Regions from separate parts of the Homo sapiens genome. Here all the other regions are linked to region 1. Evidence: fine-mapped expression QTL. A gene starts in region 1. Each other region holds a variant in brackets. All regions are shown on one strand. Distances are between the middles of the regions. Region 1 holds the start of ETFDH (electron transfer flavoprotein dehydrogenase). Region 2 overlaps RXFP1 (relaxin family peptide receptor 1). Region 3 overlaps RXFP1 (relaxin family peptide receptor 1).

What was found.
Region 2: its variant is fine-mapped to the expression of ETFDH in spleen (GTEx, PIP above 0.99).
Region 3: its variant is fine-mapped to the expression of ETFDH in tibial artery (GTEx, PIP 0.98).

What each region holds. Positions count from the first base shown.
Region 1 is chr4:158,667,339-158,675,516 of GRCh38, forward strand. It overlaps ETFDH (electron transfer flavoprotein dehydrogenase), which reads left to right and starts at 4,958. Exons shown (of 13, transcript NM_004453.4): 1 at 4,958-5,152. The coding sequence starts at 5,119. C4orf46 (chromosome 4 open reading frame 46) reads right to left here and starts at 4,549. Exons shown (of 2, transcript NM_001008393.4): 1 at 4,278-4,549; 2 at 1-2,430. The coding sequence starts at 4,463. The coding sequence ends at 2,275. RefSeq lists enhancers at 3,528-4,164, 4,165-4,801, 4,644-5,203, 4,805-5,306 and a silencer at 4,154-4,223.
Region 2 is chr4:158,543,210-158,551,398 of GRCh38, forward strand. All of the region lies in intron 1 of RXFP1 (relaxin family peptide receptor 1), which reads left to right. The region is part of intron 3 of RXFP1-AS1 (RXFP1 antisense RNA 1); the gene reads right to left. Among named protein-coding and RNA genes, the nearest start is that of RXFP1-AS1, 17 kb to the right of the region's middle. The variant G/A (reference allele first, on the strand shown) is at 4,588.
Region 3 is chr4:158,632,029-158,640,217 of GRCh38, forward strand. RXFP1 (relaxin family peptide receptor 1) reads left to right here. Exons shown (of 18, transcript NM_021634.4): 12 at 1,377-1,448; 13 at 5,980-6,051; 14 at 7,232-7,303. Among named protein-coding and RNA genes, the nearest start is that of C4orf46, 36 kb to the right of the region's middle. The variant G/A (reference allele first, on the strand shown) is at 4,341.

The sequences.
Region 1 (8,178 bases):
TGAATAGGACTATTTTTATGACATTTCCTATACAAAAACCAGAAAAAGCAAATCATTATGAAAGATTGGTAAAATTACGTTTTTAAAAATTCAAGATTTCATAACCAAAATATGAAGACAAACCAGACTAAAAAAGATAATTGGAACATACATAACAGATCATTAGTATTCAAAATATGTAATATCTAAAAACTGACAAGTAAAAAAAACAACATAGAAAAATGAGCAAAAATGCCTGTAATCCCAGTGCTTTATAGGAGGAGGCGAGATGGGAGGATTGTTTGAGTCCAAGTTTAAGGTTACAGTGAGCTATGATCCTGCCACCACACTCCAGCCTGAGCAATAGAGTGAGATCTTGTCTCTTAAAAAAAAAAAAAAGAGTAAAAGATATGGCCTCAGAAATCACACACTGCATTTGCTCAATATCCTGGTAGTTACAAAAGTCAGCACTGTAAAATGCAGGAGAAGGCTATACTGGGGCATGAACACCAGGAGGCCAGGGATCACTGGGGCCATCTGGAAGCTGGCTACCACATATATAAAACAATATTTTGTAGCGCTTTTAAAAAATATATTTGTATTAAAAATATAAAAACACATGCTATATTATGCCCCCTCTAGTGGTTACCTCTGGGGACTCTGGGGAGGGAGGAACGGGACAGGATCAAACAGGTAACAAAGCAAACTTCAAATGTATCTAACATTTGCAATTACATGCATATGTGTGTCTGAAGAAAATATAGCCAAATGCTAACATTTATTACATCTGCATGGTAGAAATACACGGATTTTCTTGAAATCATTTACCTTTCCTATATCTTTGAAATATGTCAATAAAGTTTTAAGGTAATGAATCCAAACAAATGGAAATAAAATGTGCTTTTAATAATAATTTATTTTTACACATTTTAAAAATTGCAATTTTCAGGAGATGTAAGAAGAATATTTTTCTAATACTGAAATAAGCATATCTTTGGTATAGAAATCACACCCTATGTGTTTATCTTTAACTAAAAAAACTAATCAAGAACTATGACCTAATATGTTAAACAAAACTATTCTTTGCCCATCCATCTGTCCCCTCTCATAGCCCCATTGTGGGGCATTAGAATATAGTTCTGTACCTATCTCCATATCTACAAAGAATTAAGATGTTGTATCAAAAATGTCCAGAAGTTATATATGGTAGAGAATTAGTTGGCTTAATCGTTGACACACAACACAAAACACCAAAAGCAACATAAGATACAGGATGCAAAATAGAACACTGTCACTAAGATCAAATAATACAAAAAAAATCACATCATTTAAATTTGATGCATTGCAAACAAAGTAACTTCTTTAGAATTATTATGTACACAACTTGCAAAGCTCAAAAAGTAATAGCACAGAGCCATAAATCTGATAAGGCACTTTAAAGATAGCAATCAAACATATACAAATATCAAATACAAACACTGTTAAACTGCAAAAGCAGTAACCACAGAAATAAATAGGGAAAAAATATGCATTCTTTCTAAACAGTCTTTCCCTTTCTGAAGTAAAGTCTTTAAAAAAAAAATCAAACAAGTACAAAAAATATTTATCATATATTTTTAAAACCTATCATCAAAGTCCAAATCTCTGTAAAAAAAGAATGTTTTTCTTCAAGTCAAAAAAGTTCAGATTCATACATTTCCTAGAGAAACAATGACAGTCTTCATGCTAAATATAGGAAGAAAAAAAGCTTTCAATTATGTTTGTTAACTCTTTTATTCAACAAACATTTAGTGAATGTTGTGTGACCCTGTTTTAGGTGCTGGGGATATAGAATAAAGACACAATCATTAGCTGTAGACAACTTAGCCTAACGGAGCTGGATCCACCACTGGCAACCTTAAAGTTACCTCCCTTGGTCCTTAAGATGAAACGCAACTTCAAAGTCTGCCATGCTTAGCATCTTGTTGCAAAACAAATAATGGTCTACCTAGTTTGCTACTGGTAGCACTGTGGCTCTATTAATATTAACCGTCTATTGATGAAGTTAACTTTCATAAAGGATTCTATGAAAGTTCAGAGGCATAAAGTATTTAAGGACAAACAAGTACTGGTCCGCAACAAAAATAGCATCGGTATTCTGCTTTCACAAAAACCAAGAAAACCAAGAAAAATTTCATTCTGAGTATATACAGAACTGCTGGACAGAGGTCATCCTATATGTGTGGTACATGTACAAAATATGACATAAGAAGTATGAATTATTGCAGTCATTATTAAACAACGAAGTATGCCAAATCAGTCATCAGGTTTCAAAGAATCATAGCCTTCTTTCAAGAGGTCCCGCCACGTTTTAAGGAAACGTGCATTTTCTGTACATTTGAAGGCAAGTTCTTCCACTTGAGCTGATACTGCAGATGTGGCTTCAAGAAGTTTGGTTAATGAAAAGGCTGCCTAAAAAAAAAAAGTCAAACATAATTTTATTTTTAAAATTCTCATCTCATTTTATAAGCAGGCTGAAAATAGCTTAAGGCTTTGAATCCAATGCCCATGTTATTTTCTTTCAAAGTAATCAGTTTTCAAACTACAGCACTGGCTCTTTCACGGAACCTAAGAAATTCTTTAATATTGAGTAGACTTTGAAGAAACAGGTCTGCTAGAAAAATATCCATTATGTCTGAGATATGACAAATCAGTATAGTTGTTTTCTTTTTTTTTTTTTTTTTTTGAGACGGAGTTTCGCTCGTTTCCCAGGCTGGAGTGCAATGGCGCGATCTTGGTTCACTGCAACCTCCGCCTCCCGGGTTCAAGTGATTCTCCTGCCTCAGCCTCCTTAGTAGCTGGGATTACAGTCATGCGCCACCACGCACAGCTAATTTTGTATTTTTAGTAGAAACAGGGTTTCTCCATGTTGGTCACGCTGGTCTCGAACTCCTGACCTCAGGTGATCCGCCTGCCTCAGCCTCCCAAAGTGCTGGGATTACAGGCGTGAGCCACCGTGCTTGGCCCAGGATTGCTGTTTTCTATGAAAATACACTAGAGTCTCAGCTCAACAAGATGACTTGGACCCCTTGACACTAAGCGCCAGATATATCTGAGAGATTTCATCATAAATAATTCTTACTGCTATTTGGGTAACATGGGCATTGACCTGTGAACACTTTAAACAATGAAAATGTATAGATCAAAGAACAGAAACTCTGAGCTCTGACAAATAACATTAAAAAATCACACACAAATGCAGAAAACACTCAGCTCCTGGTGGAAAATTCACTTTTCAGCCAAACGTTTTCTTCACCAATGATATAAAATAAAACAGTGTTCCTCAATAACACATTAGCACTTCATTCTACATATTTACTTGCAATCAGTTTGTTCTGCAAAAATAAAAGCTGGTTAAGCACTCTAGTCATCCTTAAAAAAAAATACTTGCGGAGCAATGAGATAATCTAGTTCATCCCCTAGTTTCCAATCTGCAGGAAAGGTCAGGCCACAGAACTCTCCCAGGTTACACTCTACATACCTCATTCCACTTGACCCACTCAAGAGAACATAAAACTCCCCTTCCCTGTCTTCTCCCCTCCAGTGGTGTGTGAGTTACGGTTGGGAGGTGGGGTGCTAGTTTCTGGGGATTCGAGATTTAACAGAAACTATCCTAAGTATGCATTCTAGCAATCATACAAAGGGAGGAGTCCTGAACTAAACCGTCAAAGAAGCCAATCCACGTGACCTAAACCCTTCAAGCTGGGTCCAGCGCTAAGCAGGCCTGGGGCAGACAATGGCATTATCAGCTGTCCCTGGGCAGGTGGCCAACTAGAACAGCAGGCTCTAAGTCCCATGGAAAGAAATCACAGCCTGATCTCAAGTACCCACAGAAAGCCAGCAAACTCATGCAGTGAAAACTATTCTCCGAAACCCATGCAATGAAAACTATTCTCCGATGGGAAAGGAGGAGGCAGAGAGCCAGCAACAGGCAGCGCAGAGCTGCGTGGCTTCGGGTTACTGCGGATGATTGAAACCAGAAGGCGAGACAAAAAGAAACCAGTGAGGGGTGGGGCGGGTGGAAGGAAAACCCCTTAAGACTCCTCACCACTAAATCTAAAGGGGGAACCCTCAGAGAGGGGTGGCACTTTAGCTGCTGGCATCCCCCCCGCTTCCCGCCCGCACGCTCTGGGGCGCAGAAGGGCCGGTCGTCCCGGGTCATGGGGGTTGGGGGACCGATTCCCTAGCCTCGCGAGCCCCGCCGCCGCCGGTCTTCCCAGAGGCGCCGAGGGGGGACGCGGTCCCGACACCACACTCACGTCTCCGATCTGCAGCTCCACTTCCTCCAGCTGGTCCACCGTTGGGCCGCTGCTCCTGCTCGGAACTGGCCAGCCCAAACTCACTGGGCCGCCCGGGGAAGATGCTGCAGAGGCGTCTGAAGAGGAGGGAGAAGAGGGAGGCGGCGGGGGCGGCGAAGAAACCTGCAACTCCTCAGGGTCGGCCATGGGGAAGGGTTGGGACCGCGGAATCCGACCCGAGAAGCCGAACCGACACCAACTGTCTTTTAACCACTCGCGCCCAAAGCCGAAAGGCCCCGCCTCCTAACGCCAGAAATCCCGCCCAGTCTCCTCGTGGGTCTCAGCCCCGGACCACAAAGACGTTTCATTTTTCGGGACAGCCAATCATATGAGTCAATTCACCTTAGGCAACTCACGGCTCCTGCGCGAGCCTCCAATCGATCTCGAAGGGCACTCGTAGAGAAAACTACACCTCCCAGGAAGCCGTGTGCGTCGCCCCGCCTTCTACTGCCTTTCACTGCGCGTGCGTCGTGCTGTGGGATTCGCGGACCCCTCTGGCCGCGCTGTGGCTGTTTCACCGCTCCCCGGCTGGGACTTGGAGTCCCTTATCTTTCCCTGGTTTGGTACATGACCCGGAAGCCTCGGCTGGCCGTTGCGTCATCCATGGCGCCGGCGCAGAGCGAGAAGGAGGTGGGAACGCCGTGAAGCAAGAGCGGTCGGCAGAGCGGGGAGGCGAACTGCAGCAGAGTTCTTGCTTTCCGGCAGGTGATGGCGCCCCCCGCGGCCTAGAGGTCCAGCGCCCGCCGCGAGCAGCGGACAGTCCTCCTGTTGTGTCCGACCGAGAGTCCTGGTGACTTTGAACATGCTGGTGCCGCTAGCCAAGCTGTCCTGCCTGGGTGAGAGGAAACGGGCGGTGGGGATAAGTGGAGGAGTTAGGGCAAAAGGGACAAGGCCGGTCCTGGGGGCTGTAGGCACCTCTCGCCCCTTCTCTCATCAGCTTTCTCAGGCTATCTAGGGCAAAGGTCACGCGCTGTCAGCCTGTTGGGGGACCCTGGCTTCCTCCCTCTGGGGTTGCCCCAGTTGGTAGAATTAATATCTAGGCTAAAGGTCAAGGGCGGGGAAAACTTGTCAACACGCCCTCGGCATCACCACCACCTGTCAACACACACACACCTCGGTGGACTCCTGAACTGAGGCTTCCCAAATCCTGGTTCTAATCTTCAAACCTCTGTTGGAAATGGAAAAAAAAAAATCGTATTTGCCCAGTTTTTCTCCCTGGTCCTGACCTGACTTTCGTCTTCGGAGCCATTCTAGTTCAGTCTAAAGAAATTGAAGTCTGATCTGTCACATCATGGTTAACATTCATATGTTGACCAAGTCACCCAAGTGTATCTGGAGCCAGTTTTTCTGCGTTGTCTAAAATTAAGGGCTGGGCGTGGTGGCTCAAGCCTGTAATCCCAGCACTCTGGGAGGCTGAGGCGGATGGATCACCTGAGGTCAGGAGTTCAAGACCAGCCTGGCCAACATTGTGAAACCCCATCTCTACTAAAAATACAAAAATTAGCTGGGCGTTGTGGCCCACTCCTGTAATCCCAGCTACTCAGGAGGCTTAGGTAGGAGAATCACTTGAACCCGGAGGTGGAGGTTGCAGTGAGCTGAGATCGCACCACTGCACTCCAGCCTAGGTGAAAGAGCCAGACTCCGTCTCAAAAAAAAATTAAATTAAATTAACTCTAAGGGCTTTATCGTGTTATGGGTATTCTGTGAACCATCGTGACAGATGAAGTTGGATGGTCTTTTTAAAGTTTTACTTAAATTTTTGTTGTTGTCGTTAATTCAAACAGAAAAGTTCCCTAAAGGATCTCATATTCTGTCATAACTGGCTTAATTTTTTTAAATCTTTAGTTTACTTAAGTTTTGGTGATAGAATCATTAAGTCTAAATATTCCAAATTCAAGGATATTCTTATGAAATTTCATGAAAGTAGAATTTTGTTAAATTTGGCTTCCATATATTAAGAAATTAGAACTTTGTTTAAATTTCATGTCACCCATGCATTTTTTGCTGCACTTAATGTATGGATAAGATGGTGTTTGGAACGTTAAAGTAGTCAGATGCTATCTGCCTTAGAGCCTAATTTAGATGCAATCAGCCTTGGGCCCAGTGCTAACCAAATTCCACTACCATTTCTGTTTTCTTTGGATGGCAATTCATTGCCATTTTCGTAGCCTGCTGGCATGAAAGAGGTAGACACCAATGTGCCATCAGTGTGACTTTGATATGGTGATGCTATGAGTTCAGTGGACTTTGTGACTTCTCTTCTCAACCACGGAGACTGAATATTCCAATCTCTAAAGTGAGATATCAGATGTGTTTTCAGAAAAGGGGTAAAGGTTGTGACTTTTTTTTCCAATCCTTTGGAGAAATTCAGACTACACAGTTCCAAATATTCTCAAGAAAATCAGTAGCTATACAAGCAGTAGAAATAGTTTGTCATATGTCAGTCATCAGTTTTCAGAAGTAAATAACTTCTATGCACTAAACTACAATGCATTGAAAACTAAATATTTTAAATATTCGTTATAGTGTATTTGAACTCTTGAACTGAGTTCTAGAATATCTTTATGTATTTAATATACTTTTTTTTTTCCAAAATTGAGGATAGGTGAATAGTTATCTAAGGCTTAAAAAGTGTTGCCAATATAGTTTTTTTGTTTTTTGGGGTTTTTTTGACACAGTCTTGCTCTGTTGACCAGGCTGGAGGGCAGTGATGTAATCTCAGCTCACTGCAACCTCTGCCTCCCGGGTTCAAGTGATTCTCGTGCCTGAGCTTCCGTAGTACCTGGGATCACAGGTGCCCACCACCATGCCTAATTTTGTATTTTTAGTAGAGACGGGGTTTTGCCATGTTGGCCAGGCTGGTCTCAAACTCCTGGCCTCAAGTGATCCTCCTACCTCAGCCTCCCAAAGTGCTGGGATTATAGGCATGAGCCACCATGCCTGGCCCCAGTGCTATAGTTTTTAGTATGCGTAAGTAAGTTCATTTCTTTGCCACTTTAAAAAAAATGACCAAACACAGATTTTTATTGCCTTTTCACAGAAAATTACTCTGAAAAGCATTAATCTTTTATAGTACCATGTGTCAAGGACTATCTAATATTTAGTCAACAAATATGTATACCTAACATTAGGTTTTCACGTACAACAAGGTCAGTGCTTTTGGAGCATGCTATCTGCTGGAGAATACAGACAACTAAAGACATTTATATTTTTACCCTTTTTTGGTCACATAAATGGTTTAAATTTTTAGTCTAATGATATTGTAACTTTTTAGATTTTTATCATTCTTAGAAAATAACTTTGAAAAATCCTAGATTCTAAAAAAAAAATTACCTGTTTTCTTCATAATATTTTTGTGTGTGGCTGTAAATGCTCTTTTTTATAACAGCTTTAATAAACTTTAATAAGATATGTCACAAATCATACAATATATACTATTTAAAATGGACAATTCAATGGTTTTTAGTATAGTCAGAGTTGTGAAACCATCACTGCAGTCTATTTTAGAACATTTTCATCACCCCAAAAAGAAACTATTCACTCCCAAGCCCCTTCCAGCCTTAGACAACAGTTAATCTACTTTCTGTCTCTATAAACTAGCCTATTCTGAATATTTCCTGTACATGGAAGCATATACTATGTTGTCTTTTTGTGACTGGCTTCTTTCACATAGCATATTGTTTTCAAAGTTCTATGTGGTAGCATATATCAGTATTCAATTTCTTCTTATTGCTAAATATTTCATTATTTGGATATATCACTTCTTACCATTTATTGATCAACATTTGGGTTGTTTCTACTTTTTGGCTGTTATAAATAATTCAGCTGTTGGTCAGGTGTGGTGGCTTACACCTGGAATCCC
Region 2 (8,189 bases), 120 kb before region 1:
ACCTTTCCTGTTCCTCCATTCTTCAGGCACTGGTTTTTATGTTACATTGACTCCTAATAGATGGAAAGATGGCTACTGTCACTCCAGACATCAAGTTCATGTTCAAAGCAGGAAGAAGGGGAAGAGTGATGTAAAGCTGGATTTTCCTCCAGTTACCAGGAAAGCAATGGCTTTTCCAAAAATTTCCCAAGAAGATTTCTAGTTTTTAGGTCTCATGGTCAGAATTGGGTCACACAGTCCCACCTCGCTGCCAAGGAAACAGGGAAAGCCAGAAACAGGAGTCACCTTATTGCTTGGGGCAGTCACCTCATCTAATGGTGCAGAACACAGTGTCTCCACAAACAAGATGGGGATTGTGTTAACAGAGGAAAATGGGAAATAGAGAATCGGTAGCAACCAACAGTTTCCCTGAGCCCTCCCAGTCAGTATTTATATTTATTTATTCCCCACTTCTCTATTCCATTTCATATTTCTTCTCAGTTTTTCTTCATTTATCTTCTCTCCCTAGTACTTCCTCCTGAAGAATGAACTTTCAAACTTTTTTATTAACACTCCATCTCCCACCTAGAATCAAATAGTATTACAACAGCTGGTACTGCCTCTTCCTTCGACACAGAAGAAAACCTAAAATCCAGTAAGACAGAGTGGCATGCCAAATTTGCCCATCAATTTATTGGCACATTCAAGAATAAAGCAAAACTCTACTGAATATCGATATAGTAGTATCTGCCTCTGAGGATTCTTGGTGCATATTTTTGCATTCTGCCATGTTTCGTCCATTTTGCCCCTACCTTGGGCATTTAAATATAAAGATTCCCATGAGATCGGATCAATTCAGCTGTTTATTTCTAGAAATGTCTATAAAGAGAAGAACTAACAAGAGAACCATCTTTTTATTTTTTTAATTTACTTCCTAAATATAAATGAAGGAGAATCTAGAACCACTGTCTTCATTGGAAATCATTGTTCCAAATGAACCGCAAGTCTGAGTTTATAAAGCTGCCATCTCCAATATGTCTGTTGAGAAATATGTCTATTTACATACATCATGTTTGTTTCTGACCTTGTGGGACAATAACTTGGAATGCCCTGAGCAACAAAAACATAAAACACTCTGATGAGACAGCATCTCATCCTTGCACTGAAGGATTTCAAAAGAGGGACAGATCACCCAGAATGGACATGGTCATAGAGGAAGTAAGTTAGAAGCTATAATTGACCTTCATCTTTTTTTTTTTAATTTTATTTTATTATTATACTTTAAGTTTTAGGGTACATGTGCACAATGTGCAGGTTTGTTACATATGTATACATGTGCCATGTTGGTGTGCTGCACCCATTAACTTGTCATTTACATTAGGTATATACCCTAATGCTATCCCTCCCCCTACCCCTACCCCCCAACAGTCCCTGGAGTGTGATGTTCCCCTTCCTGTGTCCAAGTGTTCTTATTGTTCAATTCCCACCTATGAGTGAGAACATGAGGTGTTTGGTTTTTTGTCCTTGCAATAGTTTGCTGAGAATGATGGTTTCCAGTTTCATCCATGTCCCTAAAAAGGACATGAACTCTTCATTTTTTATGGCTGCATAGTATTCCATGGTGTATATGTGCCACATTTTCTTAATCCAATCTATCATTGATGGACATTTGGGTTGATTCCAAGTCCTTGCTATTGTGAATAGTGCCGCAATAAACATACATGTGCATGTGTCTTCATAGCAGCATGATTTATAATCCTTTGGGTATATACCCAGTAATGGGATGGCTGGGTCAAATGGTATTTCTAGTTCTAGATCCCTGAGGAATCGCCACACTGACTTCCACAATGGTTGAACTAGTTTACAGTCCCACCAACAGTGTAAAAGTGTTCCTATTTCTCCACATCCTCTCCAGCACCTGTTGTTTCCTGACTTTTTAATGATTGCCATTCTAACTGGTGTGAGATGGTATCTCATTGTGGTTTTGATTTGCATTTCTCTGATGGCCAGTGATGATGAGCATTTTTTCATGTGTTTTTTTGGCTGCATAAATGTCTTCTTTTGAGAAGTGTCTGTTCATATCCTTCGCCCACTTTTTGATGGGGTTGTTTGTTTTTTTCTTGTAAATTTGTTTGACTTCATTGTAGATTCTGGATATTAGCCCTTTGTCAGATAGGTAGGTTGCTAAAATTTTCTCCCATTTTGTAGGTTGTCTGTTCACTCTGATGGTAGTTTCTTTTGCTGTGCAGAAGCTCTTTAGTTTAATTATATCCTGTTTGTCAATTTTGTCTTTTGTTGCCATTGTTTTTGGTGTTTTAGACATGAAGTCCTTGCCCATGCCTATGTCCTGAATGGTATTGCCTAGGTTTTCTTCTAGGGCTTTTATGGTTTTAGGTCTAACATGTAAGTCTTTAATTCATCTTGAATTAATTTTTGTATAGGGTGTAAGGAAGGGATCCAGTTTCAGCTTTCTACATATGGCTAGCCAGTTTTCCCAGCACCATTTGTTAAATAGGGAATCCTTTCCCCATTGCTTGTTTTTGTCAGGTTTGTCAAAGATCAGATGGCTGTAGATATGCGGCATTATTTCTGAGGGCTCTGTTCTGTTCCATTGATCTATATCTCTGTTTTGGTACCAGTGCCATGCTGTTTTGGTTACTGTAGCCTTGTAGTATAGTTTGAAGTCAGGTAGCGTGATGCCTCCAGCTTTGTTCTTTTGGCTTAGGATTGACTTGGCAATGTGGGCTCTTTTTTCGTTCCATATGAACTTTAAAGTAGTTTTTTCCAATTCTGTGAAGAAAGTCATTGGTAGCTTGATGGGGATGGGATTGAATCTATAAATTACCTTGGGCAGTATGGCCATTTTCACGATATTGATTCTTCCTATCCATGAGCATGGAATGTTCTTCCATTTGTTTGTATCCTCTTTTATTTCATTGAGCAGTGGTTTGTAGTTCTCCTTGAAGAGGTCCTTCACATCCCTTGTAAGTTGGATTCCTAGGTATTTTATTCTCTTTGAAGCAATTGTGAATGGGAGTTCATTCATGATTTGGCTCTCTGTTTGTCTGTTATTGGTGTATAAGAATGCTTGGGATTTTCATACATTGATTTTGTATCCCGAGACTTTTCTGAAGTTGCTTATCAGCTTAAAGAGATTTTGGGCTGAGACAATGGGGTTTTCTAGGTATATAATCATGTCATCTGCAAACAGGGACAATTTGACTTCCTCTTTTCCTAATTGAATGCCCTTTATTTCCTTCTCCTGCCTAATTGCCCTGGCCAGAACTTCCAACACTATGTTGAATAGGAATGGTGAGAGAGGGCATCCCTGTCTTGTGCCAGTTTTCAAAGGGAATGCTTCCAGTTTTTGTCTATTCAGTATGATATTGGCTGTGGGTTTGTCATAGATAGCTCTTATTATTTTGAGATACATCCCATCGATACCTAATTTATTGAGAGTTTTTAGCATGAAGGGTTGTTGAATTTTGTCAAAGGCCTTTTCTGCATCTATTGAGATAATCATGGTTTTTGTCTTTGGTTCTGTTTATATGCTGGATTACGTTTATTGATTTCCATATGTTGAACCAGCCTTGCATCCCAGGGATGAAGCCCACTTGATCATGGTGGATAAGCTTTTTGATGTACTGCTGGATTCGGTTTGCCAGTATTTTATTGAGGATTTTTGCATCAATGTTCATCAAGGATGTTGGTCTAAAATTCTCTTTTTTGGTTGTGTCTCTGCCCGGCTTTGGTATCAGGATGATGCTGGCCTCATAAAATGAGTTAGGGAGGATTCCCTCTTTTTCTATTGATTGGAATAGTTTCAGAAGGAATGGTACCAGTTCCTCCTTGTACCTCTGGTAGAATTCGGCTGTGAATCCATCTGGTCCTGGACTCTTTTTGGTTGGTAAGCTATTGATTATTGCCACAATTTCAAAGTCTGTTATTGGTCTATTTAGAGATTCAACTTCTTCCTGGTTTAGTCTTGGGGGGGTGTATGTTTTGAGGAATTTATCCATTTCTTCTAGATTTTCTAGTTTATTTGTGTAGAGGTGTTTGTAGTATTCTCTGATGGTAGTTTGTATTTCTGTGGGATCGGTGGTGATATGCCCTTTATCATTTTTTATTGCATCTATTTGATTCTTCTGTCTTTTCTTCTTTATTACTCTTGCTAGCTGTCTATCAATTTTGTTGATCCTTTCAAAAAACGAGCTCCTGGATTCATTAAATTTTTGAAGGGTTTTTTGTGTCTCTATTTCCTTCAGTTCTGCTCTGACTTTAGTTATTTCTTGCTTCCTGCTAGCTTTTGAATGTGTTTTCTCTTGCTTTTCTAGTTATTTTAATTGTGACGTTAGGGTGTCAATTTTGGATCTTTCCTGCTTTCTCTGGTGGGCATTTAGTGCTATAAATTTCCCTCTACACACTGCTTTGAATGCATCCCAGAGATTCTGGTATGTTGTGTCTTTGTTCTCGTTGGTTTCAAAGAACATCTTTATTTCTGCCTTCATTTCATTATGTACCCAATAGTCATTCAGGAGCAAGTTGTTCAGTTTCCATGTAGTTGAGCAGTTTTGAGTGAGTTTCTTAGTCCTGAGTTCTAGTTTGATC[G/A]CACTGTGGTCTGAGAGACAGTTTGTTATAATTTCTGTTCTTTTACAATTGCTGAGGAGTGCTTTACTTCCAACTATGTGGTCAATTTTGGAATAGCTGTGGTGTGGTGCTGAAAAAAATGTATATTCTGTTGATTTGGGGTGGAAAGTTCTGTAGATATCTATTAGGTCTGCTGGGTGCAGAGCTGAGTTCAATTCCTGGGTATCCTTGTTAACTTTCTGTCTCGTTGATCTGTCTAATGTTGACAGTGGGGTGTTAAAGTCTCCCATTATTATTATGTGGGAGCCTAAGTCTCTTTGTAGGTCACTAAGGACTTGCTTTATGAATCTGGGTGCTCCTGTATTGGGTGCACATATATTTAGGATAGTTAGCTCTTATTGTTGAATTGATCCCTTTACCATTATGTAATGGCCTTCTTTGTCTCTTTTGATCTTTGTTGGTTTAAAGTCTGTTTTATCAGAGACTAGGATTGCAACCCCTGCCTTTTTTTGGTTTCCATTTGCTTGGTAGATCTTCCTCCATCCCTTTATTGTGAGCCTATGTGTGTCTCTGCATGTGAGATGGGTTTCCTGAATACAGCACACTGATGGGTCTGGACTCTTTATCCAATTTGCCAGTCTGTGTCTTTTAATTGGAGCATTTAGCCCATTTACATTTAAAGTTAATATTGTTATGTGTGTGTTTGGTCCTGTCATTATGATGTTAGCTGGTTATTTTGCTCGTTAGTTGATGCAGTTTCTTCCTAGCCTTGATGGTCTTTACATTTTGGCATGGTTTTGCAGTGGCTGGTACTGGTTGTTCCTTTCCTTGTTTAGTGCTTCCTTCAGGAGCTCTTTTAGGGCAGGCCTGGTGGTGACAAAATCTCTCAACATTTGCTTGTCTGTAAAGGATTTTATTTATCCTTCACTTTTGAAGCTTAGTTTAGCTGGATATGAAATTCTGGGTTGAAAATTCTTTTCTCTAAGAATGTTGAAGATTGGCCCCCACTCTCTTCTGGCTTGTAGAGTTTCTGCCGAGAGATCAGCTGTTAGTCTCATGAGCTTCCCTTTGTGGGTAACCCGACCTTTCTCTCTGGCTGCCCTTAACATTTTTTCCTTCATTTCAACTTTGGTGAATCTGAAAATTATGAGTCTTGGAGTTGCTCTTCTCGAGGAGTATCTTTGTGGCGTTCTCTGTATTTCCTGAATCTGAATGTTGGCCTGCCTTGCTAGATTGGGGAAGTTCTCCTGGATAATATCCTGCAGAGTGTTTTCCAACTTGGTTCCATTCTCCCCATCACTTTCAGGTACACCAATCAGACGTAGATTTGGTCTTTTCACATAGTCCCATATTTCTTGGAGGCTTTGTTCGTTTCTTTTTATTCTTTTTTCTCTAAACTTCCCTTCTCGCTTCATTTCATTCATTTCATCTTCCATCACTGATACCCTTTCTTCCAGTTGATCGCATCGGCTCCTGAGGCTTCTGCATTCTTCACGTAGTTCTCGAGCCTTGGCTTTCAGCTCAATCAGCTCCTTTAAGGACTTCTCTGTGTTGGTTATTCTAGTTATCCATTCATCTAATTTTTTTTCAAAGTTTTTAACTTCTTTGCCATTGATTTGAATTTCCTCCTGTAGTTTGGAGTAGTCTGATCGTCTGAAGCCTTCTTCTCTCAGCTCGTCAAACTCATTTTCCGTCCGGCTTTGTTCCGTTGCTAGTGAGGAGCTGCGTTCCTTTGGAGGAGGAGAGGCGCTCTGCTTTTTAGAGTTTCCAGTTTTTCTGCTCTGTTTTTTCCCCATCTTTGTGGTTTTATCTACTTTTGGTCTTTGATGATGGTGATGTACAGAGGGTTTTTGGTGTGGATGTCCTTTCTGTTTGTTAGTTTTCCTTCTAACAGACAGGACCCTCAGCTGCAGGTCTGTTGGAGTTTGCTAGAGGTCCACTCCAGACCCTGTTTGCCTGGGTATCAGCAGCAGTGGCTGTAGAACAGCGGATCTTGGTGAACTGCAAATGCTGCTGCCTGATTGTTCCTCTGGAAGTTTTGTCTCAGAGGAGTACCCGGCCGTGTGAGGTGTCAGTCTGCCCCTACTGGGGGGGTGCCTCCCAGTTAGGCTGCTTGGGGGTCAGGGACCCACTTGAGGAGGCAGTCTGCCCATTCTCAGATCTCCAGCTGCATGCTGGGAGAACCACTACTCTCTTCAAAGCTGTCAGACAGGGATATTTAAGCCTGCAGAGGTTACTGCTGTCTTTTTGTTTGTCTGTGCCCTGCCCCCAGAGGTGGAGCCTACAGAGGCAGGCAGGCCTCCTTGAGCTGTGGTGGGCTCCACCCAGTTCAAGCTTCCCAGCTGCTTTGTTTACCTAATCAAGCCTGGGCAATGGCAGGAGGCCCTCCCCCAGCCTCTCTGCTGCCTTGCAGTTTGATCTCAGACTGCTGTGCTAGCAATCAGCGAGACTCCGTGGGCATAGGACCCTCCGAGCCATGTGTGGGATATAATCTCCTGGTGTGCCATTTTTTAAGCCCGTTGGAAAAGCACAGTATTAGGGTAGAAGTGATCCAATTTTCCAGGTGCTGTCTGTCACCGCTTTCTTTGACTAGGAAAGGGAACTCCCTGACTCCTTGCACTTCCCGTGTGAGGCAATGCCTCGCCCTGCTTCGGCTCACACCTGGTGCGCTGCACCCAGTGACCTGCACCCACTGTCTGGCACTCCCTAGTGAGATGAACCCGGTACCTCAGATGGAAATGCAGAAATCACCCATCTTCTGCATTGCTCAGGCTGGGAGCTGTAGACCGGAGCTGTTCCTATTCAGCCATCTTGGCTCCACCCCTGACCTTGATCTTAAAGGGTAAGATCTAAATAGGTGAAAAAGAAGATATTCAGGAACACTGCCATGAGTCCAAAAAAGGGAGGTAGAAACATCAATAACCTTTCAGGGCTCATAAGCTAGTCTATATGGGGAATTAGTAAAGGCACATTGGTTAAGAACACGTGTTCTGGAATCAGACGGATCTGCATCTGAATCCCATTTCCACCACTTACTGGTTCCATGATATCCAAGCAATTTATTCCTCTATGCTTTAGCTTCCTAAACTATAAAATCATGATAATATTAGAACTTATTTAATGGAGTTTTATGAAGATAAAGTGAAACAAGGCATGCAAAGTGCTTAGCCTGGTACCTAAAACATATTAAATGCTCTAAAACATGAAGAAAAAAAAAAGCAACTACTGACCAACATGAAAGGAGTCAATGTAACGGACTATTAAGTTTTAAAACTGGGTTGTGGACCTAAGTGTCCATCAACAGATGATGGATAATGAAAATGTGGTATATATACATAATGGGATATTATTCAGCCTTTTAAAGGAAAGAAACTCTGGCATTTGTGACAACATGGATGAACCTAGACAGCATTATGCTATGTGAAATAAGCCAGGCACAGAGAGACAACTACTGCAAGATCCTTTTTATATGTAGGATGTGAAGTAGCCAAACTCATAGAAGTAGAGAGTCGAGTGGGGAGTACCAGGGTCTGGGGAAAAATGGAGAGATGTTGGCCAAAAAATGTGAGGTTTCTTACACTTCTCTTTGTTGAAGGACCAAGCAAGTGACTGAAACAAATAAG
Region 3 (8,189 bases), 35 kb before region 1:
TTGCAGTGAGCCGTTTGTGCCACTGCACTCACACAATGCGGTTTTGATTTCATCTCCTAAGGTACAGTAAGCTATTGAAGGAGATTCCAACTCTTTATGAAAGAGATGGAATTTTTGAGTAATTCCTTCAGTTGTCTAATCAGAACAATCTGTTGACAATTCACCGATAAATATGTAACTAACAGCAATAGTCTCCAGGTTCAGTTTGCAGCAAAGACGTTTATAATATTTATCACATTATATTAGCCACTTATTTTTAGTTTTAAAAACTCAGTCTAAAAATTGTCCTACCCTTCGAGGTCAAAAAATCTAACGTTTGCCTTATAAGCAAACCAGCATATATAACAAATACATCTATTCATTCTCCTACCTATCCCAGTGGCAACAAATATGATTTGGAGATGAATAGAAGAAAAGGTTAGACTTTCCCTTAGTATCTCTTGATCACCTTACAGAGCTCAAGTCTATTGAAACTTTTTCTTGTATAAAAGAATCTGAGGCCTTTCACATGAGAGCTGCCACTGTCAAAGCTACCACGAGAGGTGCTGCTGTCAAACACCTTTTTAGGACTAAGGTACGAGGTCATACCATGTTAAGCAGACCCTCTACACATACATGAGATGGCATGCAAAGTATCCTACCCCAGGATAATATGAGAGCCTGTGTATATCAGCTGTGGAAGAAACTCGAACTTGAAATAATACACTTCCATAATAATCACAACAATCCTAAGCGGAAGAAAAAAATTAAGATCGCAAACCATGCATCTATTCTAACACACAAAAAAAGAGAACAAAGGAAGAAGGGGCACAACACAGAAATCAAAAGAATGAGAAAATGCGATTGATTAAAACCAGATCAGGCCAGGTGCAGTGGCTCACGCCTGTAATCCCAGGACTTTGGGAGGCTGAGGCGATTGGATCACAAGGTCAGGAGTTCGAGACCAACCTGGCCAACATAGTGAAACCCCGTCTCTACTAAAAATACAAAAATTAGCCAGGCGTGGTAGCACACACCTGTAATCTCACCTACTGGGGAGGCTGAGGCAGGAGAATCACTTGAACCCGGGAGACAGAGGTTGTGGTGTGCCAAAATCGCACCACTACACTCCAGCCTGGGTGACAGAGTGATACTCGGTCTCAAAAAAAAAAGATCAAATACCATCAAGTATTTGTCTTCCAGGGGATGATGAAATGGAATAAAATATTTTTATATTTTCCAACTTTGCTCCTTTTTTAAATTTTTAGACTTCTGGTGATTAATATAACTCACCAATGGCATTGTTGAAAAGTTGTATAGTGGTTTCCTAATGAATTTCAGAACAATGAGTAAAGTCTTAAGAAAATAATATCACATATTTGCAATTATTTCTCCAGGGATTTAGGAAGTAATAAGATTGAAAATCTTCCACCGCTTATATTCAAGGACCTGAAGGAGCTGTCACAATTGTAAGACTGATGTTAATTTTGCCACCTCGTTTCTTTATTTTATTATTTTTTAAATTGTAAAATATGCATAACATAAAATTAGCCATTTTTAAGTGTGTAGTTGAGTAGCATTAGCTACATTCACATTGCTGCCCAACCACCACCACCATCTACCTCCAGAAGTTTTTCATGTTGCAAAACTGAAACTCTAGCCACTAAACACTAACTTCCCACTCACCGTTTCCCCATCCCCTGGCTACCACCATTCTACTTTGTGTCTGTGTGAATTTGACTACTCCAGATACCTCATAGAAGTAAAATCATGGAATATTTATCTTTTTGTGACAGGCCTATTCTACTTAGCATACTGTCTTCAAGTTTCATTTCTGTTGTAGCAGAAATGAATTTCCTTCCTTCTTAAGGCTGAACAATATTTCATTGTGTATATGTATTGCAGTGTTTATTCACCCATCAATGGACATTTTAGTTGCTTCCATCTTTTGCCTATTGTGGATAATGTTGCTATGAACATGGGCGTACAAATATCTGTTGACTCTGCTTTCAATTTTTAGGTACCTACTCTCAAAAGTAGAATTGCTGTTTCATACATTTCTGTCATTTTATTTTTAATGCATGTTTCATTCTGTTTTCCATAGGAGTTTAACCATTTTACATTTCCGCTAGTAGTATACTAGGGTTTCCATTTCTCCACATCCTTCCCAACACTTGGTATTTTCTGTTTTTTTGATAATAGGCATGCTAATGGATGTGAAATGGTATCTCACTGTGATTTTGTTTTGTGATTCCCAGTGATTAGTGATGTTGAGCAACTTTTCATGTGCTTATTGGCCATTTGGATACCTTCTTGCAGAAAAATCTGTTCAAGTCATTCACTCATTTTTCAATTGGATTGTTCAGGTTTTCTGTAGTTGTTAGATTGTTGGAGTTCTTATATATTCTGGATGTTAACTTCTTTTCAGATACATGATTTTCAAATATTTTCTCCCATTGTATGGGCTGCCTTTTCACTCTATTATGGTGTCCTTTGATGCACAAAAGTTTTTAATTTATGTATAGTCTAATTTTTAAATTTCTTTTTTTGTTACTTATGCTTTTGGTGTCATATCCAAAATAACACCAAATGTCATTGGTGTCATGTCATGAAGCTTTTCCTGTATGATTTCTTCTAAGAGTCTTATAGTTTTTAGCTTTAATATTTAGGTCTTAAATCCATTTTGAGTTAACTTATGTACATGGTGTAAGGTAAGGATCCAACTTCATTCTTTTGCATGTGGATGTCCAGTTTTCTCAACACAATTTATTGAAAAGACTACTCTTTCCCCATTGAATGTCCTTGGCACCCTTGTTGAAAATCATTTGACCATATATCTGTGAGTTTATTCCTGAGCTCTCTATTCTATTCCATTAGTCTACATGTCTGTATTTCAGCCAGTACCACACTGATTGCTGTAGCTTTGTAGTATGTTTTGAAATTAAGTGGTGTAAAATCTCCAATTTTGTTCTGCTTTTTTCAAGATTGTTTGGCTATGTGGGCTCCCTGCATTTTCCATATGAATTTTAGGATGGATTTTCATATTTCTGCAAAAAAAAAAGGCAATGGGATTTTGGCAGGTTGCTTTGAATCTGTAGCTCACTTTGAGCAATACTGACATCTTAATATTAAGTCTTCTGATCTGTGAACATAGCATGTCTTTCCTTTCATTGGTGTCTTCCTTATTTTCTTTCAGCAATGTTTCGCAGTTGCCAGGGTATTTATCTTTCACCTCCTTGGTTAAGTTTATTTAAGTATATTATTCTTTTGATGCTATTGTAAATGGAATTCTTTTCCTCATTTTCTTTTGTGATTATTCATTGCATATAGAAACACAGCTGATTTTTGTGTGTTAATTTTATATCCAGGAATGTTGATGAATGTTTTAGTTCAAATGGATTTCTTTTTAGTTAAATCTTTAGGATATTCTACATATAAGATTACATCACCTGTAAACAGAGATCATTTTTTTCTTCTTTTACAATTTGGATGCCTGCCTTTCACTTTTTTTTCTTGCCGAATTGTTCTAATTAGGACTTCCAACATTATGTTGAATGAAAGTGGTAAAAGCAGGAATCCTTGTCTTGTTCCCACTCTTAAGGGAAAGCTTTTGGTCTTTTACCATTGAGTGTGGGTTTTCATATACATCCTTTATTATGTGAGGTAGTTTCCTTTTATTTTTAGTTTGCTGAGTCCACTTCATTTTTTTATACAACCCATTGGTCATTGTCATTCTTTCTCTCTTTCCTTCTTTCTGTAACTGTGGCTCCCCCAGCAGTTCCTTCCATCCCCCATGTAACTTATGGTCTAATCTTCAGTAAATATTTTTGTTTATTTCCTCTTTTTTTTTAATTTTGTTTTTGTAGAGATGGGGGCCTCATTATGTTGCCCAGGCTGCTCATATTGGACTTCAAGGCTCATGCCATTCTCTCACCTCGGCCTCCCAAAATGCTGCGATTACAGGCATGAGCCACCACACCCAGTCTAAATATTTTAAAAAGAGAAATTTTCCTGAGAAGTTTCCTTTAATCAATGATTCTTGTTTCAAGGTGTTGTTTTTCAAAGATTCTGAAATTTTCTCCATTTAAATTTACCTTTCAGTTCTCTTTAAGAAGGCAGGTGCTTGTAGTCCCAGTGAGTTGAGAAGCTGGGGCAGGAGGATCCCTTGAGCCCAGGAGTTTGAGTACAGCCTGAGCAACATAGCAAGTCCCCATCTCTAAAAAATTAAAATATAACAATAAATTCCCTTTAAAGTCTACTTTTCATTTCATGTTTCATGACTTAAGATTTATTGTAAAATATATGATATATTATTCCATTAATTCAAATTTTGACTAAATGAGATTATTTTATTTCATTTT[G/A]TTTAAACCATATCTGATCTTAGGCAAAATGTGAAGTAGATGCGGCTCTTTCTCAGTCCCCTACCACTTCTCTGGTGGCAGCCCTTTCTTGACAGCTCCGCCTTCATGCCTATGTTTTATTAGGTCTCAGTCTATCACTACCGTAATCACAGAGTATCTACCACAAGCTGGGCACTGTTCTAAGTGTTTTATCTTAATTAATTCACTTACATGTACAATCAACCCTGTGAGGCCAATGCTATTGCTATCTCTTTATTTCACTGACAAACAAAAATTGTATATATTTATCAGTACAACATGATGTTTTGAAATATGTATACATTGTGGAATGCCTAAATTGGGCTAATTAACATATGCATCATCTCACATACTTATTTTTTGTGGTGAGAACACTTAACGTCTACTCTCTTAGCAATTTTCAAGAATACAATACATTGTTATTTGCTATAGTCAGCATGTTACACAATAGATGTCTTGAACTTATTCCTCTTTTCTAAGTGAAATTTTTGTACCTTTTGACCAATATATTCCAATCCTTTCCCACCTGCCTCTAGTGACCACCTTCTACTCTCTACTTCCATGAGTTCAACTTTTTTAGATTCCACATATAAATGAGATCATGTGGTAATTGTCTTTCTATGCCTGACTTACTTCATGTAGCATAATGTCCTCCAGATTCATTCATGTTGTTGCAAATGACAGGATTTTCTGTGTTTTTTAAGGCTGAATAGTATTCTATTGTGTATGTATACATATTTTTTTATCAAGTCATCCTTTGATGGACACTTGGGTTGAATCCATACCTTGGCTATTATGAATAATGCTGCAATGAATATGGGAGTACAGAAATCTCTTTAATATACTGATTTTATTTCCTTTGGATATATATCCAGTAGAGGAATTTCTGGATCATGTAGTAGTTCAATTTTTGATTTTTGAGGAAGCCCCATACTATTTTCCATAATGGTTGTACTAATTTATATTCCCATCACCAGTATGCAAGGGGCAACCTTTTCTTCAAATCATCCTCAACCCTTATCTTTCATCTTTTTGATAAAAATTATTCTAAAAGGTGTGAGGTAATATTGTGGTTTCAGTTTGCATTTCTCTGATGATTAGTGATGTTGAGCACTTTTTCATATACCTGTTAGTCATTTATATGTCTTCTTTTGAAAAATGTCTATTCAAGCCCTTTCCCTAATTTTTAACCAGCTTATTTGTTTTCTTGCTGAGTTGTTTGAGTTCCTTACACATTTTGGGTATTAACCACTTACCAGATATATGATTTGCAAATATTGTCCCCCATTACACAGGTTGTCTCCTCACTCTGTTGATTGTTTCCTTAGCTGTGCAGAGGCTTTTTAGTTTTATGTAATCCCATTCATCTATTTCACTTTTGTTGCCTATATTTTTGGGGCAATATCCAAAAAAATCATCACCCAGGTTAATGTCCTGGGGCTTTCCACCTATGTTTTCTTCTAGTCGTTTTATAATTTTACAGTTTAAGTCTTTCATCCATTACGAGTTATTGTATACTTTCGTTCATAAATATGTTAAAGTAACCCAAAATAAACAGATTCACTCGCTTTACTCATGTAGTTTTTAGAAATGACCTATTGCTGCTTTTTTTAAAAAACAGGAATCTTTCCTATAATCCAATCCAGAAAATTCAAGCAAACCAATTTGATTATCTTGTCAAACTCAAGTCTCTGTAAGTATTCACATATGGGGATAGTTTTATGATAAAATTGTTTTTTAAATACTAACAATGTATATTTTTATATATTTACTTCAAATCATAAGCTTTATTTCCAAGACATTAGTTTAGCTCCACAAAAACATATGGGTGCTTGCTGAACTATAAACAGACAACTATTAGTTTTATCTTATATACTTGTAAATTAAAAAATAATGATGAATTATTTTATATTTTTCTATAAGTCATTAGGAGCTTATGTTGATTTGTTTGCTTTGACCCTTCAAAGACATCTGTGCATATTCACTCTCTTAACACTGGGTATTTTATAATTTATTATAAGTGTTTTTACCCCAAGATGGAATATGCTAGATTATATAAATCCTTACTTGTACCACACACACACAAAAAGACAAAAATTCTGTTAGAGCCAAAGAATTGCCTTAAAAGATAAGCTTCAGGGCTGAGTGCAGTGGTTCACACCTGTAAACTCAGCACTTTGGGAGTCCGAAGCAGGAGGATTGCTTGAGATCAGGAGTTGAAGAACAACCTGGGCAACATAGGGAGATGCTGCCTCTACAAAAAAATAAAAATAAGCAAATTAGTTGAGTGTGGTGGCATGCACCTGTGGTCCTAGCTACTTGGGAGGCTGAGGTGGGAACATTGCTTGAGTTGGGAGGTTGAGGCTGCAGTAAGCCCTGTTCATACCACCACACCAGCCTGGGCAACAGAGGAAGACCCTGTCTCAAAAAAAAAAAAAAAAGGTAAGCTTCAGTTCATTTAATTTGAGTGTTCCCTCAGTAAAATGACATTTTATTAGAAAAAAATTTATTAATTAAAAATTACTAGGAAATTTTCAAGGATGTAAAGCATCCTCTGCTATTGTAATATTGTACAAAAGATAATGCTTGTGCATTTATTCCACACATATTTATTGATTAGTTAAAATGCACAAAGCATTGTGCCATGATCTGTGAGGATCTGAAAAAAATCAAATAAGGAAGATAATACGTGTATAAATAACACAATCAGAAGGAGGAGGATTTGGGGAAGTGGGTGGGTTGAGTATAATTATTTTGTTCAGAGTAAGTGTTAACTAAAAGCATTTTATTAAATTGTCCTTCACAGAAACTCAATTTATTAAACCATGTATAATACATGTTCCTTTGATTGATTATTAATTTGATATTTTTAGCAGCCTAGAAGGGATTGAAATTTCAAATATCCAACAAAGGATGTTTAGACCTCTTATGAATCTCTCTCACATGTAAGTAGATATTTTATTGTTTTTCACTGTGATGTTAATATTTGTTTCCATGTGTATTATGATAATGCATCCAATCTATTAATATTTTCTACTAATTTGCCAGCTATAAACTGAAAGTTTGTGTTCCTCCAAAATGTATATATTGAAATACTAACCCCAATGCAATGGTACAAGGAGGTAGGGCCTTTGGGAGGTGACTAGGTCATGAGGACAGAGCCCTCATGAGTGGGATTAGTGCCCTTAGAAAACAGACTCTGGTCCAGGCCAGTGGCTCATGCCTGTAATCCCAGCACTTTGGGCGGCCGAGGTGGGTGGATCACCTGAGGTCAAGAGTTCAAGACCAGCCTGGCCAACATGGTGAAACCTCGTCTCTACTAAAAATACAAAAATTAGCCAGTCGTGGTGGTGATTCCAGCTACTCAGGAGGCTGAGGCAGGAGAATCGCTTGAACCCTGGAGGTGGAGGTTGCAGTGAGCCAAGATGGTGCCACTGCACTCCAGCCTGGGCGACAGAGTGAGACTCCATCTCAAAAAGAAAAAAAAAGAAAAGAAAAGAGACTCTGGAGACGACCCTTGCCCCTCCACCTTGTGAAGACAGACAGAGAAGATGGCCATCTATGAAACATGTGGTCCCCTACCAGACACTGAATCTGCTGGCACCTTGATCTTGGTCTTCCCAGCCTCCAGAACTGTGAGAAATGAACATTTGTCGTCTAAGTCACTCAGTCTATGGTATTTTTGTTACAGCAGCCAAGTGGACTGAGACATGTCTAAACAATAATTAAAACTCTTAAACCTTTGATATTGGGTGAGATGATTTTAGTTTTCCACAGTCTGGTAGAATCTCATAGGAGATTTTTTGAATCTCAGGAAACATGATGTGAGGG